4 linked regions of the Homo sapiens genome follow. The protein of the gene in region 1 purifies or fractionates together with the protein of each later gene. This does not show direct contact. Each region holds a gene or a part of one and is shown on either strand. Other genes may lie near its edges.

The links.
Region 2: the proteins of FLACC1 (region 1) and FTO purify together in Homo sapiens (affinity purification with mass spectrometry; one large-scale study listed by BioGRID and IntAct). This does not show direct contact.
Region 3: the proteins of FLACC1 (region 1) and RP2 purify together in Homo sapiens (affinity purification with mass spectrometry; one large-scale study listed by BioGRID and IntAct). This does not show direct contact.
Region 4: the proteins of FLACC1 (region 1) and SNX3 purify together in Homo sapiens (affinity purification with mass spectrometry; one large-scale study listed by BioGRID and IntAct). This does not show direct contact.

What each region holds. Positions count from the first base shown.
Region 1 is NC_000002.12:201,287,480-201,291,719, forward strand, and holds the end of FLACC1 (flagellum-associated coiled-coil domain-containing protein 1), read right to left. Parts: intron 2,381-4,240; coding exon of another isoform or gene 2,307-2,380; coding exon 2,217-2,306; intron 2,088-2,216; coding exon 1,978-2,087; coding exon of another isoform or gene 1,962-1,977; exon of another isoform or gene 1,918-1,961; intron 1,303-1,917; coding exon 1,176-1,302; 3' UTR 792-1,175; downstream 1-791.
Region 2 is NC_000016.10:53,822,656-53,826,820, reverse strand, and holds part of FTO (alpha-ketoglutarate-dependent dioxygenase FTO), read right to left. Parts: intron 958-4,165; coding exon 330-957; coding exon of another isoform or gene 300-329; intron 1-299.
Region 3 is NC_000023.11:46,878,286-46,882,450, forward strand, and holds the end of RP2 (protein XRP2), read left to right. Parts: intron 1-1,400; coding exon 1,401-1,484; 3' UTR 1,485-4,073; downstream 4,074-4,165. UniProt on the Homo sapiens protein: Acts as a GTPase-activating protein (GAP) involved in trafficking between the Golgi and the ciliary membrane.
Region 4 is NC_000006.12:108,219,035-108,223,199, forward strand, and holds part of SNX3 (sorting nexin-3), read right to left. Parts: intron 4,012-4,165; coding exon 3,916-4,011; intron 1-3,915. UniProt on the Homo sapiens protein: Phosphoinositide-binding protein required for multivesicular body formation. Specifically binds phosphatidylinositol 3-phosphate (PtdIns(P3)).

The sequences.
Region 1 (4,240 bases):
CTCTCCCCAAACTTGCTTTATGCCTTCTTATTGCTTTTATGATATATATATGCTTGGCTAACTATATTTGCTTTTTGCTAACAATGCTCTGGGGTCTTTTTATGCATTTGCATTTGCTCTTTCATCTCTGCTTGGATTATTTTAAATCATTAGGAATTAAGTTATCTTTAAAATTTAAGTATCTTTTTTCAAAAACATTTTTTAATAGAATAAAATATAATTTGATCTTATTGCTCCTTGGAGATTTTTTGTGTTTGGTTTTGGTTTCTGCCAATGACATCTCACAGGTGGAAAACATCTGGACTACAGACATGTTCTACTTGAGTCTCCCATGATCGGCACACACAGTTGTATTTTTAAAATTTGTTGTCAATGTTTAAAAATTAGGAGATATCACATAAAAACCAGAATAACTTCTTTTAAAAAATCATACTATCTGACAATATTGACCTCATGCTTTTGCATGGCAAAGGTCTGAGAAGCACCTTCTTCAGATGGGACAGTGCTCTGTGGGTCACTCTTCCCCATCCGCTGTGCCCCAGCCCTGCCCAAGCCCCTCTACTGAGGCTGCTGTTGGTTGCCACTTATCACTGTGCTTGGGCAATTGTTTTCCTTATGTCTAGCCCACTTCACTTATTTATGTTGCCTGCACTGTGGGTGTCTGAATTCTGGTGATGGTCCAGAGGAGGTGGTAAGAATCATCAGAAACCCTTCCTAAGTCATAGGTTAGGGAACATGATTGAGAGGTAGGGAAGTAGGGGGCATGGGTGTGAGAGAAAAATATTTTAGAGTAAAATCAACACATCATCTTTTTTTGCTACCTAAATGCCCCAGGGGACAAAGGTACACCTCCCAAATATAGTAAAAGTTCAATATGAAGAAGGCCTTCAAATCAGTTTCTTTCTAACGAAATACGTCAAGGTAGAAGAAAAATAGTACAAAACTCAGAGAAAGCTCAGCTCCCAGTATGGAGAGCATCATTTTTCAGTGAAGAGTCCGTGATAAGCTGTGAAATTCAGATGCGAATTCAAACATTTTCAGACATTCAGAGAGTCAGAGCAACCCAAGAACTAAACTCATTATATGCATTTTCTCAAGAAAACCCTCCCAGGAGTTTCCTGGGCCTACAGAAATGGTGTGCCAACCATCTTCAACAATGCAGAGCAACTTTTTGTTTATGATTCTTGTCCTTTCTTGCTACCATCTTGCACAGTGTCAGAATCATCCTTAGAAACAGTAATAGAGGCCAATCTCCCAGAACATCCTTCACAAATTTCTTCATTCTTAGAAATTATCTTTTGCCTGTAAAAAGAAAGGAAAGATGTATCAATGTCAACTCAAAAGCTAGAAAGGGTATAGGATATTTGGAGTGCAGGGAGAGAAATGTGCCTTCGTTCCTTCACCACAGCAGTCTCTCACTCATTACTTGCAGTGGTTTTGAATTTAGTGAGGTATGGTGTTCAGGTGACTAAAGTCCTATACGAGGAATTTTCTACTAAATCAATGCAATAAATAACTTTCTTCTATTAAAGTATTGACCAAAATTTATTTTAATGATTTAAGATGCAGCTTCAGGTAACAGTACACCTTCTGATCCAAAGGTGATTTCCATAGGAACCAGAAGCAGCTGCATGTAATGGCAAGACCATCAGACTCCCAGGGGAGATGGATTTAAAAACCACCCTCAGTCATAGAACTGAGCAAACTCAGAAACTGGAAGACAAATGTCCTGTGTTGTTTTGCATAGAAACAAGGACACAGGTGAATGGGAGAAGTATAGACACATCTCCACTCCACCTCAAGTGAACTATCTGGCTTTGTGTCACTGGCCTAGAGTGACATACCTCCCTCCCGAAAACACCTGTGCCTTGACATAACTAGGGAGCAGTTGGTCTATCTTCCTAACCCATTCCTCACTCAAACTCCTTCCCACTCCTAAAGAGAACTCAGCTATGTCTTTTTCAGCAGCAGCCGCACTTCAGATGAATGTTCTCTTCCGTCAGGATCTGTATGGTGTGCTTATACTTTTCTTCAGTTTCAGCAAACTTGGTTTGAAGCATTTTCTCCAGATTTCCCACTATAGCTTTCTGAAAGACATACATTTTAATAGCCATCTTCCCCAACCCAGAGCCATCCAGGGCAGAGCTATATGGCAGAGCTGGATGGAGACCTGGGTTCTTCCCCCAACCCCCATCCCCACTCCAGTAGGGACTCACCTCTTTCTGGAGTTCCAACTGGGTATAGTAGAGGTTTGTGTTCAGTGACTCTAGGATAAGGGCTTGTGCATGCAATTCTTCCTGCATGACCTGCATAAGAAGAAGCTGTTGCAGGACATCATGCCAATGTCTATTTATTTGGTCTCTTCTCCAGGGCACCTGGACTATGATGAAAGGGAGCAACCTGAGCTACTTTTGCATCACTCATGGCCACTCACACCCTGTCAGTCCTGCCTCCTCTCTGTCTCACCCATCTATATCCTTCTCTTCAGCCTCACCAGAGCTCATATGAATGGTTCTAATGGCAATCAGTTATTCATTCACTAAGCAAGTCTTTATTAAATACCTACTACCGATTCCAATTATATGACACTCTGGAAAAGGCAAAACTATAGAGAGAGAAAAAAGATTAGTGGTTTCTAGGGATTTGGAGGGGAAGGGAGGGATGAATAGGTGGGATAGAGGGCACTTTTAGAGCAGTGAAACTATTCTGTATGACACTATAATGGTGGATACATGACATGACATATTAGGCAAAACCCACAGAATGTACAACACAAAGAGAGAACCCTCATGTAAACTATGGACTTTAGTTAATAAGAATGCATCCACATTGGCTCATCAATTGCAACTAATGTGCCATCCCAATGCAAGATACTAATAATAAAGGAAACTAGTGGTGGGGTAGGGTGGGGTGGGGTAGTATATGGGAACTCTCTGTACTTTCTGCTCAATTTTTCTGTAAACCTAAAACTGCTCTAAAAAGTAGCTTCTTGAAACAAACACACAAACTTCCACTAAAGAATGAATAGAAGCCTGTGCAAAGGTCCTTAGAATGCAAAATGCTCAGGGGTGGAGCCAAGACAGCCGAATAGGAACAGCTCCAGTCTACAGCTCCCAGCGTGAGCGATGCAGAAGACGTATGATTTCTGCATTTCCAACTGAGGTATCGTGTTCATCTCACTGGGGATTGTCAGACAGTGGGTGCAGTACAGTGGGTGCAGTGCACTGAGCATGAGCCGAAGCAGGGCGAGGCATCACATCATCCGGGAAGTGCAAGGGGTCAGGGAATTCCCTTTCCTAGCCAAGGAAAGGGGTGACAGATGGCACCTGGAAAATCAGGTCACTCCCACCCTAATACTGCATTTTCCAACAGTCTTAGCAAACGGCACACCAGAAGATTGTATCCCATGCCTGGCTCATAAGGTCCTACGCCCACGGAGCCTTGCTCATTGCTAGCACAGCAGTCTGAGATCAAACTGCGAGGTGGCAGTGAGGCTGGTGGAGGGGCGCCCACCATTGCTGAGGATTGAGTAGGTAAACAAAGTGGCCAGGAAGCTCGAACTGGGTGGAGCCCACCGCAGCTCAAGGAGGCCTGCCTGCCTCTGTAGACTCCACCTCTGGGGGCAGGCATAACCAAACAAAAGGCAGCAGAAACCTCTGCAGACTTAAATGTCCCTGTCTGACAGCTTGAAGAGAGTAATGGTTCTCCCAGCACGCAGCTTGAGATCTGAGAATGGACAGACTGCCTCCTCAAGTGGGTCCCTGACCCCTGAGTAGCCTAACTGGGAGGCACCCCCCAGTAGGGGCAGACTGACACATCACACGGCTGGGTACTCCTCTGAGACAAAACTTTCAGAGGAACAATCAGACAGCAACATTTGCTGTTCACCAATATCTGCTGTTCTGCAGCCTCCGCTGCTGATACCCAGGCAAACAGGGTCTAGAGTGGACCTCCAGCAAACTCCAACAGACCTGCAGCTGAGGGTCCTGACTGTTAGAAGGAAAACTAACAAACAGAAAGGATATCCACACCAAAACCCCATCTGTACGTCACTGTCATCAAAGACCAAAGGTAGATAAAACCACAAAGATGGGGAAAAAACAGAGCAGAAAAACTGAAAATTCTAAAAATCAGAGTGCCTCTCCTCCTCCAAAGGAATGCAGCTCCTCGCCAGCAACAGAACAAAGCTGGATGGAGAATGACTTTGACGAGTTGAGAGAAGAAGGCTTCAGATGATCAA
Region 2 (4,165 bases), on another chromosome or scaffold:
AGAGAAGACAGTCGGCTGTATGAAACCAAGAGGCTGCTCTCCTGGGCACAAGAGAGACAAATGACAGCAGTGCTTACGTGCGAAAATATTCTGAGTACAGTATAACAATGAGCCAGCTAGCATGGCCAGATGAGAAAGAGGCATATTCTGCAGACATACAGGTGTGACAAGACTAAAAAGGACACATGATACACACACACGCATGTGCATGTACACACGCAAGCACACATGCAAACATGTTCATGTATATGCGTGTGTATCTCCAGAGCCTAAACAACTCGGGTCATATTATTACATACAGGGCTGCTTTTTCCAAGAGCAGACTGTACCTTCACAGCTATAACTGTACACTGCCACCGCTGACCTGTCCACCAGATTTTCATCATGATGCCAGCTCACTGCCATTTTCCCCATGCCAAAATAAGGTTCCTCTTTCAGGTATGGCATTTTCTGAGGATCCATGAAATTCAGCAAAGTTACGTTGTATGCTGCTCTGCTCTTAATGTCCACTTCATCTTGTCCGTTGTAGGATGAACCCATCCCAACCCTGGGGAAATCTGCAGACATACACAATGGCACAGCATCCTCATTAGCCTTCTCTTTGGCAGCAAGTTCTTCCAAAGCCTGGATGGTTTCTATCTGCAGGTAGTCATTGAGCTTGAGGAAGGTCTCACAAGCAGCGGCTATTTCAGCCTCGGTGTGTTTTATATTAGACCCTTTCACTGGCCAGGGGACCGTAAAGAGCCTGGTGTTCAGGTACTTGTAGGTGCAGCCTGGATTACCAATGAGGATGCGAGATACCGGAGTGAGCAGATCTTTGCCTTGGATCCTAACCAGGTCCCGAAATAAGCAGCCATGCTTGTGCAGTGTGAGAAAGGCTTCTTGAACCTCTTTATGGAGCTCCTCAGATACACTGCTGGCTTCTCGGAGAATTAGTTTAGGATATTTCAGCTGCCACTAAAACAAAACCAAAGCAAAAACAGACGTTGATATATAGCTACAATTGTATTATTTCCAAAGGTGTGTTTCTTTGTAAGCATTTGGGGAGTTGTGGGGGGACTACCTGGTGGCTATTTCTAAATAGGAGTCACATCTTCCTAGCCCAAAACAGAAAACCAAATAAAACAAATGTCATCAAACTCTAAAGTCAAGATTTTCAAGTTCAAGCTCAAATTACTAACAATCTTTAATAAAAAACAAAAAATAATAATGTGTGTCCTGATACACCAGGATTATTCTGTGACCACTTTTTCTCACCCTAAATCTCAACACCATTTTATTAACTGCTTATTATCTAAAATATTTATTAAGTGCTTACTACGTACCAGGTACTGTTGTAAGTTACTTGTGTGCATTAGCTCATTTTAACTCTAGGCATAGTATTATTATCTCCAGTTTATAGATGAGACCACTGAAACACAGAGACATTAATCTGACCAAAGACATTAATTTGCCCAAAGTCACACAGCTGGCAAATACTGGAGCTGGAATTTAAAGCCCCTGGACACCAACCCCTGGCTTCCAGGGCACGAGTTCTTAACCATGAGAATGCATTGTCTCAATAAATGACAAACTGGTTTCTGCTTAACACTTTCACAAAAAGAGAACTCACTTCTCTTCAGGAGTTAGACATTAAGTTCCATGAACACAAAAGCCATGGCAATTTTGCTCATGACTATAATATGAGTGCCCAGAATTTACTCAGTAAATGGTAAAGGAATGAATAAATGGATTTGTGCATGGATGAATGAGGTATTATTACATTGTAATTCTACAAAATTCTAATAATTCTACTGGTGTCACTGGAGGAGAGTAATATTGGTCAATTCCCTTCCCTAATACAGAAATACATGGAATGATTAATGTAGGTTAGGGCTGCATTAGCTTTTCGGCTACCACTTTCCTTAGGACTTGGCATGTGAATCGGTGTCAGACTGGAGTTTCCTGATTCTGTAAAATGCAACTGATTTATTTGTAACCAAATCACAGGATTTTACATTTACCTCTGTAACGTTTGATCTGATTTGTTCCTCCCTAGTTTTAGGCTGTCTTAAAGAAAGAGTCAGACATGATCAACACATTAACCTGTCCTCCCTGTATTGTGTTGCCCACCATTGTTAAGATACCTTCCTTCTCTGTCTTCATTTAGTAATTACCATTCACATGATAGGCAGGGCAAGACCAGTATTCTTCCAAACGTTTTTTTTTTCATGCAGCATCTGTTTATTGAGCACCTACCACCAGATGGAAACAAGGTCCCTGTTCTCACAAAGCTTTCTACCAAATCAAGTAAATAAATAAAGAAAAGCAACCCCAAATTGTGTTAAGTACTAAGACAGAAACAAACCAGCAGGAAATCTTATTAGAACAGGAAGAATTCTCTAAGGAGACGGGATTTAAGCTGAGATCTTCAGGAAAAGAAGGCACCAGAAATATGACAAGCCAGAGAAAGTGCTTCCCAGAAAGACAGACCAGAGAAGCCAAAGGCACTCAGGAAAAAGACCAACCTATTCTAGGGACAAAAAAAGGCTTGTTTTACTAGAGCACAAGAGCCAAAGACAGAGTGGCATGCTACGAGGAGGCAGAGGAAGGCGGAGGCCAGATCACACATAGCCCTAGAGGTCGTGGTAAGGAATCTGAAGCTAACTCTAGATGCACTGGAGGATGTAGAAGGGAGAAAAATAACTTGATTTACATCTTATACAATCGCTCTTAGTTATAATATCAGGCACAGATTGGAAAGAGGCACATGTGAGCGTGGAATGTGCTATTACAATCATCTGGAAGAAAAGTGATGGTCTGGACTAAAATAGAGACAAAGATAAGTGGACAGATGAAATACATACGTTGTAGGTAGAACTAAAGGATGTGCTTATGAATTAGATGTAAGGGATAAAAAAAGATATAAGTCTTTTGGGGTTTTTTGGGTTTTTTTGAGATGGCGTTTCGCTCTTGTTGCCCAGGCTAGAGTGCAATGGCATGATCTTGGCTCACTGCAACCTCCACTCCTGGGTTCAAGTGATTCTCCTGCCTCAGCCGCCCGAGTAGCTGAGATTACAGGCATGCGCCACCACACCTGGCTAATTTTGTATTTTTAGTAGAGACGGGGTTTCTCCCTGTTGCTCAGGATAGAAGTTAAGAATACATTCCAGATTTCTGGATTTAACAACTAAATAAACAATTTACTATTCTGTGAAATAAGGAAAACTGAGGCAAAAGAGAAATAGTAGAAAGAAGAAAAGGGGGAAATGAAGAGTTCACTGTAGAGCTGCAGCCTTGAAGATACCTATGAAACCTCCAGGTGAAAATATGGTGGGCGGGGGGAGGGGAATTGGATGTACACATCTGGAGCTCAGAAGAGAAAGCAGGGCAGAGGAACGCAATGTGGGAGTGATCAGCACACAGCTTGGTTTTAAAGGCCTAGAAATGAATGAGATCACCTAGGGAAACAGTACAAATATCAAAAGGAGACCAAAGCTATTTCCTGAGTCGCAGCAGAAGCCTCAACAAAGGAGAACCAGCAGAGTGTATTATTGCAGAAGCTAAAAGAGGAGAGCATTTCTAGAAGGGCGGGGTACTCAACTATGTCACCTGACACTGAGAGGCCAAGTGAGATGAAGACAGATGATCCAGTAGATTTGGCAGCATGAAAATCACTGATGGCAATGACACGAGCAATCTCAGTAGAGTGCTGGGGGTGAAAGTCAGATTGGAGTAGGCGAAGATGGAATGAAAGAGGAGGAAGTGAGATGGCATGTAGAGATGTCTCTGAATGGTTCTGCTATGAAGGGGAGTAGAAAAATGGAGCTTTTGATAAAGAAGAAGGCTAGACTAAGGGACAATCTCTAATGATGGAAGACGCTAGAGAACACCAGAGTTTCTCAGTACACTCATGAGAATGATACAAGAGAAAGAGGCTGACGATGCAGAGAGAGTGAATAACCAAAGAAGTCGAGACCTTGAGTGTCTAGAGCAGTAGCCCCCAAGTCAGGTATGCAAGGCTTTGTAAGGCCATCTGGAAGAGTGGTGGGGCACAGGGGAGAGGTAGAACTGCTTTATTTTTAATATAAAATGAAAGAACTCAAGCATTATTAAAATATGTATGCATATATATATATACACACACACATATACACACAAATAGGTTTAATATGAATATTATTAT
Region 3 (4,165 bases), on another chromosome or scaffold:
AGAATGGCGTGAACCCGGGAGGCGGAGCTTGCAGTGAGCCGAGATCCCGCCACTGCACTCCAGCCTGGGCGACAGAGCGAGACTCTGTCTCAAAAAAAAAAAAAAAAGAAATCATCACATGTAGGCATTTTCTAAATATATTGATGAAGTTGCTGTATCTAAGAATTGCAGACATAAATAAATTTAAAACCAAACATAGAGGATTACATTAGCAAATCTATAATTGACTACTTTTTGATAAATACCTGGGAGGACATTTTGGTTTTATCATCTGATTTGGCTTATGATTCCTTGAATTTACAAAAATTAAAGTACTTTGTCTTTGATCTCATTTTATCATCACAGTAGTACTAAGGGAGAGGGAAAATACCAGGTTGAATAGAAAAGGAAACTGAGAGATAAAATGGTTAGAATTTGGACTTTTAGAGCTGAATGATTTAGAGATTATCTAATCCAGCTTTCTCATTTTACAGGTGTAGTTACTGAGCCCACAGAGGTTTATTAAATTGTCAGCATCATATGCTAGTTTACGATAAAGCTAGAATAGAACCCACATCTGCTCTAATTCCTTGCTGACATTTGTAAAAGCTACTTTAGAAGGGTTCTATTGAGTATTGCTTCATTGATGTTTAGCAGATAGTTTATTTAAAAATAACAGGCTGGGTGTGGTGGCTCACACCTGTAATCCCAGCACTTTGGGAGGCTGAAGCGGGAAGACTGCTTGAGCCCAGGAGTTCAAGACCAGTCTGGGCAACATAGTGAGACTCTACAAAAAGTAAAAAAAAAAAAAAAAAAAAAAAAAAAACTAGCTAGGCATGGTGGTACACACCATTAGTACCAGCTACTTGGGGGGCTGAGGCAGGAGAATCACTTGAGTCCAGAAGTCTAGGCTGCAGTGAGCCATGATTGCACCACTGCACTCCAGCCTGGGCAACAGAGCAAGACTCTGTCTCAAAAATAAATAAAATAAAATAAAAAATAATAATATATCTTTAGCAGCTTTGAAAGGGATAATCTCAAGTTTTGCTGCTCAGACTACTGAGATTATTATTAGAAAATAGAAGAAACAAAGAGTTTTTTAAGTGACTCTTATTCAGTAGCTTCCGTAATATTGAGTGTTGTAAAAGTCCAGATGTAATAAAATACAACTCAAGTATTATGAAAGCAGAGACCTTAATTATATAAGTGCTTCCAAAAGAGCTTAATTTACATTATAGCTATTCAAAGTGTATTACATGAATTCTAAAGAAAATCTACAGATTAAATATTGTCATTATAAATGATGTACTTGAACTTCTTTTGAATAATTAGCTTGGAACTTTGTTCTGTGGAGAACATGGGCTTTGGCATTCTGAAGTACTTGGTACTGATTTTTTTTTTTAATTTTCTATTTAAAATAGATGTTTGTATCTGAAAGCAAGGAGACGGCATCTGGAGATGTAGACAGCTTCTACAACTTTGCTGATATACAGATGGGAATATGAAGTGCAATGTGGAACCAGGACTTGGTATTAAGCCTTTCCCAACTTGTGAATATAGAATTTGATAATACACTTTTGTGTATTAGCAATGGTTTTTACTAATGCTAAAACTTTTAAAGTTTATTTTTTAATAAATTGTTGAGTATTACATCATTTACTTGAGGTTCAAAAATAATTCATTTTAAATTAAGTAGTTTTAATCAGCTTAAAAGCTATTTAACCCATTTTAATAAGCTTGCAGTTTTGTTTCTCTGCATATGATATTCTTATTAGAAAACAGAAGTAGCTAAAAGTTTATTATTTTAATCCTATTTAAATGTTCTTTCAAATCTCTAATAATTTAAACTTTCCTCAGTGCTCCATGATACTTTTTTTGAGACTCCATATCATTGCTTATTTTACCTTTTTCAATTTAGAGGGATTTGTTACTAGTCGATCAATTAGAATGAACCTATGCACATTTTTATGTACACATATCCAGTTATATAATTGCTTCCTAGTTGCATTATATGGCAAATGAGATTTTGTACATGGAGTTGACATAATACTTTGTAAATTGAATTTTTTAAAGAAATAGGCATTTGATAACCAGCTTGGCAAGTAACTCTACTAACAGATGTTGGTATAGCTATTTAAAGACTACTTCGTAAGTAGTATGATTATTTGAATAAATTACACATTGTTTAGTTTTTTAATACAACTGCTATATGACTCTTCTGCTTCCTGATAAGAAAAGGTATATGCAATGCTAAAACTGTAGAAGCCCAATCACCAGCAGTTTTTAAAAAGGTGATAACTTTTATTAGCTCTTGTGGGCTATCAAGAGAATTGGAACAAAACCTTGTGACTTTTAGGTAAGAAATAGGCATGATGATAAGCTATGCAGATTATTAAAAAGCTTGATACATTTGATTTTTCATTAGATATGCCATTCATATCAAGTAATGTTCAAGTATGATAAAATTATTTTGGTTGCTTTAAAGCACTGTTTCCCAAATCTACCTGATCATAATAATTTACCAGGAAGCAGAGGAGAGCTACTTGTTTAAAAATCCACATTCTTGGACCCAATCCTCAGATGCACGGATTCAGTCTTCAGGGGAAACTCTGTTTTAAGGGGTATGTTGTAATCTAAAGTAATTGGTTCAGGAGGTGTCAATAGGTTGAACTTGTGAGAAGGCACTGAATCTGCCATCCACATCACATATAGCAGCTATTATGAAATCAGCTTTCATAGGCCTATTTTTAAAAGGAATCTGAAATTTAATTCTATTTTGATAAAACTAAGACTGAAAATAACCACTTGTAAACATTCCTATGATTGTTACTAAAATGTATTTTCATGTTTAAAATGTTTTTGGATATTTTTGGGTTAATAACTACTACATTGAATTGCATGTTAAGGTGCAGAAATAATACATTAAAAGATTTTCACTTTAAATTAATTAGTAATATTGAGCGCTCACCCTGTGCGTGGCCTTGTGCTAACCATTAGCACTGCATCATTTCAATTCTTTTATAAGGGCATTCAATACTACAAAATCAACATGATTTCATAAGGTGCAAATAAAAGTTGGTGACAGATTTAATATAATTTTGATCACAATTTACAAATGATCTTTGCAAATAGTGGTCAGACGGCATTAGTTTTTCCCTTAGTTAAGCTAAATTAAAGGGACTCCATCCTGTTATGATTATATTATTATTATTATTATTATTATTTTTGAGGTGGAGTTTCACTCTTGTTGCCCAAGCTGGAGTGCAATGGCGCGATCTCGGCTCACCACAACATCCGCCTCCTGGGTTCAAGCGATTCTCCTGCCTCAGCCTCCTGAGTAGCTGGGAATACAGGCATGCGCCACTACACCTGGCTAATTTTTGTATTTTTAGTTGAGATGGGGTTTTTCCACGTTGGTCAGGCTGGTCTCGAACTCCTGACCTCAGGTGATCCGTCCACCTCAGCCTCCCAAAGAGCTGGGATTACAGGTGTGAGCTACCGCGCCTGGCCATGATGATATTATTAAACACCATTATTCACATTTCAAATAATAACAATACTTTTTGTTTTTCAAAAATAAAATGCAATGTTATATAAAGCTATAAACTAAGTTCTTTATGATATTTGAGCAACAACTCAGGAATATAACATATAAGGGAGATGTTAATTTAAAAATTTCCACTACACTTATTATCTATTAACCAAAGCTTAAAATTTTGTATTCTTCTGTTAGATAAGACCTTTTACCCATTTAATTTGTCTTTAAGGACAGTCATTTGGCTTCTGAATGTTTGAAACGATTTTAAAAAATAAGTAGTGCTATGGTTGTTTCTATAATTCTAACCTTTGATAGTAATCAGAATGTATTACATTTCATTTCTGAATAGCTTTTGAATTTATGAAAAATTATTAACAATGAAAAATTGGTAATTTTATTAAGTTATATGTGTTTAAATATTATATTAGCTTATTTCTCTTGCATTAATAGTACTGCTGTTTTTGTTTTGCTTCTTTATATTTATGTCTAGCTTTTATATGTAATTTATCTAGTGTTTATAAAATGTGATTTGTAATAAATGTTGTTAAAATGAAAATGGCTGCAATGGTTTGTATATGGTCTGTTTGTCCCCACCAAAGCTCATGTTGAAATTTGATCCCCAGTGTGGCAGTGTTGGGAGATGGGGCC
Region 4 (4,165 bases), on another chromosome or scaffold:
TATATCTCAATAAAGCTGTTACTAAAAACAAAAGCGGTCGGGCGGGGTGGCTCACGCCTGTAATCCCAGCACTTCGGGAGGCCAAGGCGGGCGGATCACAAGGCCAGGAGATCGAGACCGTCTTGCTAACACGGTGAAACCCCGTCTCTACTAAAAATTTTTAAAAAATGAATAAATAAATTTACAAAAAAAAGCAAAATATACACTCAGCAAACGTTTATTAAACATTTCCAGTGTGCCACATGGTATGTCAAGCAAAGCCCAAAGCCTATGTATCAAGACACTTCTCAGCTAGGTGTGGTGGCTCATGCCTGTAATCCCAGCACTTTGGGAGGCCAAGGCAGGAGGATTACTTGAGGCCAGGAATTCAAGACCAGCCTGGGCAACATAGTGAAGCCTCATCCTTACAAAAAATTTTTTAAAATTAGCTGGACATGGTGGCTCATGCCTGTAGTCCCAGCTACTTGGGAGGCTGAGGCAGGAAAATCACTTGAGACCAGGAGTTGGAGGATATTATAGTATGCTATGATCACGCCACCGCATTTCAGCCTGGGCAACAGAGCAAGGCTCTGTCAATCAATCAATCAATCAATCTCCCAACCATCTGTAATTTGTAATATAGTGAGATATAAATCTTTATTTCCTAATAGACAAATATTTCAACTCCATTTGCTGAATTCCTTTCCCACTGAATGACAATGCTATTTTTGTTATGAACTAAATTCCCTATAAATACATGGGTCAAACTCTAAACTCTATTATATTCCACTAATCTATTTGCCCAACCTAAAGCAATATACACTGCATAACAGTGTTTCCCATCAGAGATGGACCACTTAAGATAATAACTGTGGTGCCTTAAGATTATAATGGAGGTGAAAAATTCCTATTGCCTAGAGATGTCTTGGTGATCCTGACTCTGTGCAGGCCTAGGCTACTATGTATATTTGTGACTTAATTTTTAAGAAAAAGTTAAAAAAATTTAAATAGAGAAAAGCTTATAGAATAAGAATATAAAGAACATATTTTTGTACATTTGTTCAATGTGTCTGTGTTTTAAGCTAAGTGTTATTACAAGAGTCAAAAAGTTAAAGTAAAAAGTTTAAAAAGTAAGCTAAGGTTAATTTATTATTGAAGAAAAATATTTTATAAATTATAAATTTCAATGTACAGTGTTTATAAAGCCTGCAGTAATAAACAGTAATGTCCTAGGTCTTCTCATTCACTCGCCACATACTAACTGACTCACCCAGAACAACTTTCAATCCTGCAAGCTCCATTTATGGTAAGTGCCCTATACAGGTGTACTATTTAAAAAATCTTCCATGCTTTAAAAAAAAAAAAGTCTTCCACGCTGTATTTTTTACCATATCTTTTATATGTTTAGATGCACAAATGCTTCCCACTATGTTACAACTGCCTGTAGTATTAAGTACAGTAACATGTTGGATAGGCTTGTAGTCTAGGAGTAATAGGCTGTACCATATAGCCTAGGTGTGTAGTAGGCTACACCACCTGGGTTTGTGTGAGTATACTCATATGATGTTTGCACAAACAATGAAATCACCTAAGGATGCATTTCTTAGAATGTATTCTCATCATTAAGTGCCATATGACTACACCACATTGTTTGAATTACTATAGCCTTAAGATATGTTTTGGGTCAGGCACAGTGGCTCACACCTGTAATCCCAGCACTTTGGGAGGCCGAGGAGGGCGGATCACCTGAGGTCAGGAGTTCGAGACCAGCCTGGCCAACATGATGAAACCCCATCTCTACTAAAAATATAAAAAAAATTAGCCGAGTGTGGTGGTGGGTGCCTGTAATCCCAGCTACTCGGGAGGCTGAGGCAGGAGAATTGCTTGAACCCCGGAGATGGAGGTTGCAGTGAGCCGACATGATGCCACTGCACTCCAGAGTGAGGCTCAGTCTCAAAAAAAAAAAAGATGTTTTGATGTCTGGTAGAACAAATAACCTGCTGCCCACTATATACTGAAAATATTTTTTGGTTATTCTTGAGCTTTTTCTGATTCTAAAGCTCATAAATAAATCTGCAACTTTATAAACAGCCCTACTGAAATTTCTACTACAATCTTATGAATTTATAAATAAGTTAGAAGATACTGCTCTACTTCATGCAGGTCTCTGCTAATGTCACCTAGAGTGAGGCCTTCCCTTGTGCTCTATATGAGAGTGGCTCCCCTGGCACTTCCTACTTCCCTTAGTTTAGCTTTGTTTTTTTTTTTAGAGCTTCTCATCATCTGACATCTATATATTTTACTATATTTTTCCTGCCTTCTCTTCAACAACCCCCTCCCCCGCAATTTACCTAATAGGATATAAGCACCATAAAAGAGGGGACCTTAATTTGTTCATAGCTCTACCTGTAACTCCTAGAACACAAAGGACGAGCTAAAATGTTTATAAAATAAAAAAATCTTCAACAGTAAACATTCCAAACGAGGAATACAGTATTACAAGGAATACAGTATTACACTTTTTTTTTTTTTTTTTTTTTTTTTTTTTTTGAGACAGGGCCTGGCTCTGGTGCCCATGCTGGAGTGCAGGGGCAAGACTACAGCTCACTGCAACCTCTGCCTCCTGGACTCAAAGTGATCCTCTTGCCTCAGCCTCCTGAGTGCTGGGACTACAGGTGCATGTCACCATGCCTGGCTAATTTTTGTATTTTTTGTAGCGATGGGGTTTCGCATGTTGCCCACGCTGGTCTCGAACTCCTTGGCTTAAGTGATCCACCCACGTTGGCCTCCTGAAGTGCTGGGATTACAGGCGTAAGCCACTGCACCTGGCCCCTCTTTATTTAGGTCTGGTCTTTTGGTAAAGTTTGAGAGCTTTCTTAACACAGATTTTGTATTTCTAGTTTTATTCATATTTAAAAATTTTGGAAGAGATGGGGCCTCACTATGTTCCCCAGGCTGGTCTTGAACTGCTGGGCTCAAGAGATCCTCCTGACTCGGCCTACCAAAGTACCGAGATTATAGGCATGAGCCACCATGCCCGGCCTTCTTTACATTTTTGTTGGAATGCTATGATCTGCATATTTTGTGCTCATATGCAGCCACTTTTATCTTAGGCTAGAAACAGAAAAAAAAAGAAAACCCTTATTAAACTTGAGAAATGAGTACAGACTAGCCTTCATCTAGTTCAGGACTCCTACCATACCCACACCTTTTTACCTACTTTCTAGTCACAAAATAACTTTTCATCATTCTGAGCACACCACGTCCTTCCATGACTCCTTGCCTCTGATGTCATTCTGAGGCAGGGCTGAAATGAGAGACACCAGAGTGAGACCTTGCTTTAATTTATTTTGATGCCAAAGCTACCAAATTCTATTCTAAGAGAAGATCAGGCATGTAACAGTGTTTTTAAATTGCCGGCAGCAACCCATTAGTGGATCATGGCCATCATTTAAAAACGCTAATCTGAAGAATATCAGCACATATCACACAGAGTGAGGTCATTACTGCTTTATGAAACTTCTGTTACATGAACATATATGTGATGAAAAAAACTTATATGTCACTAAAACAAAATTGGAAATACACTGACATTTATAAAATGTATTGAGGAAGAGAAACTTGGCTTAAGTGTGTGGAGAGGGGAAGATGGAATAGGACGATGAGGGAAAGGAAGGAAGTAATAGCAACAAGGTTCTAAGAAGTGTTATTGAAGTGTGAGTCAGCAAAGACCTCAACTGGGCCAAAGCAGACAAGAGAAAGAGTTCTAAGGAAAATTTACACAGACTCTACCTCTATAAAATGACACTGAACTATTTGAAAAAAAGAAATCATATTTGCTTTTACCCATTTTATTCAATATCATTTTCCTGAGAAATATTAAACATTAAAACTTGGAATGTTTTGCTTTAAAGTTGCATCATAAATCATTCTTACCTTGCTCTCTCTTTCTAATTCACTTCGCAGCCATTCAAAGTCACTGTATCTTCTTCTAACAGTAGATTCTTTCAGCTTGAAAATAGGAAGATTTGTCTGAAACAAAAAAAGTTAGTCCTAAATTGAAGCACATTAAGGAAACTTCAAAAAAATGGGGGGACGGGTATGGCAAAACAAAAGAAATCATGACTTTCTTTTTCTTTTTTTGAGACAGAATCTCCCTTTGTTGCCTAGGCTGGAGTGCAATGGC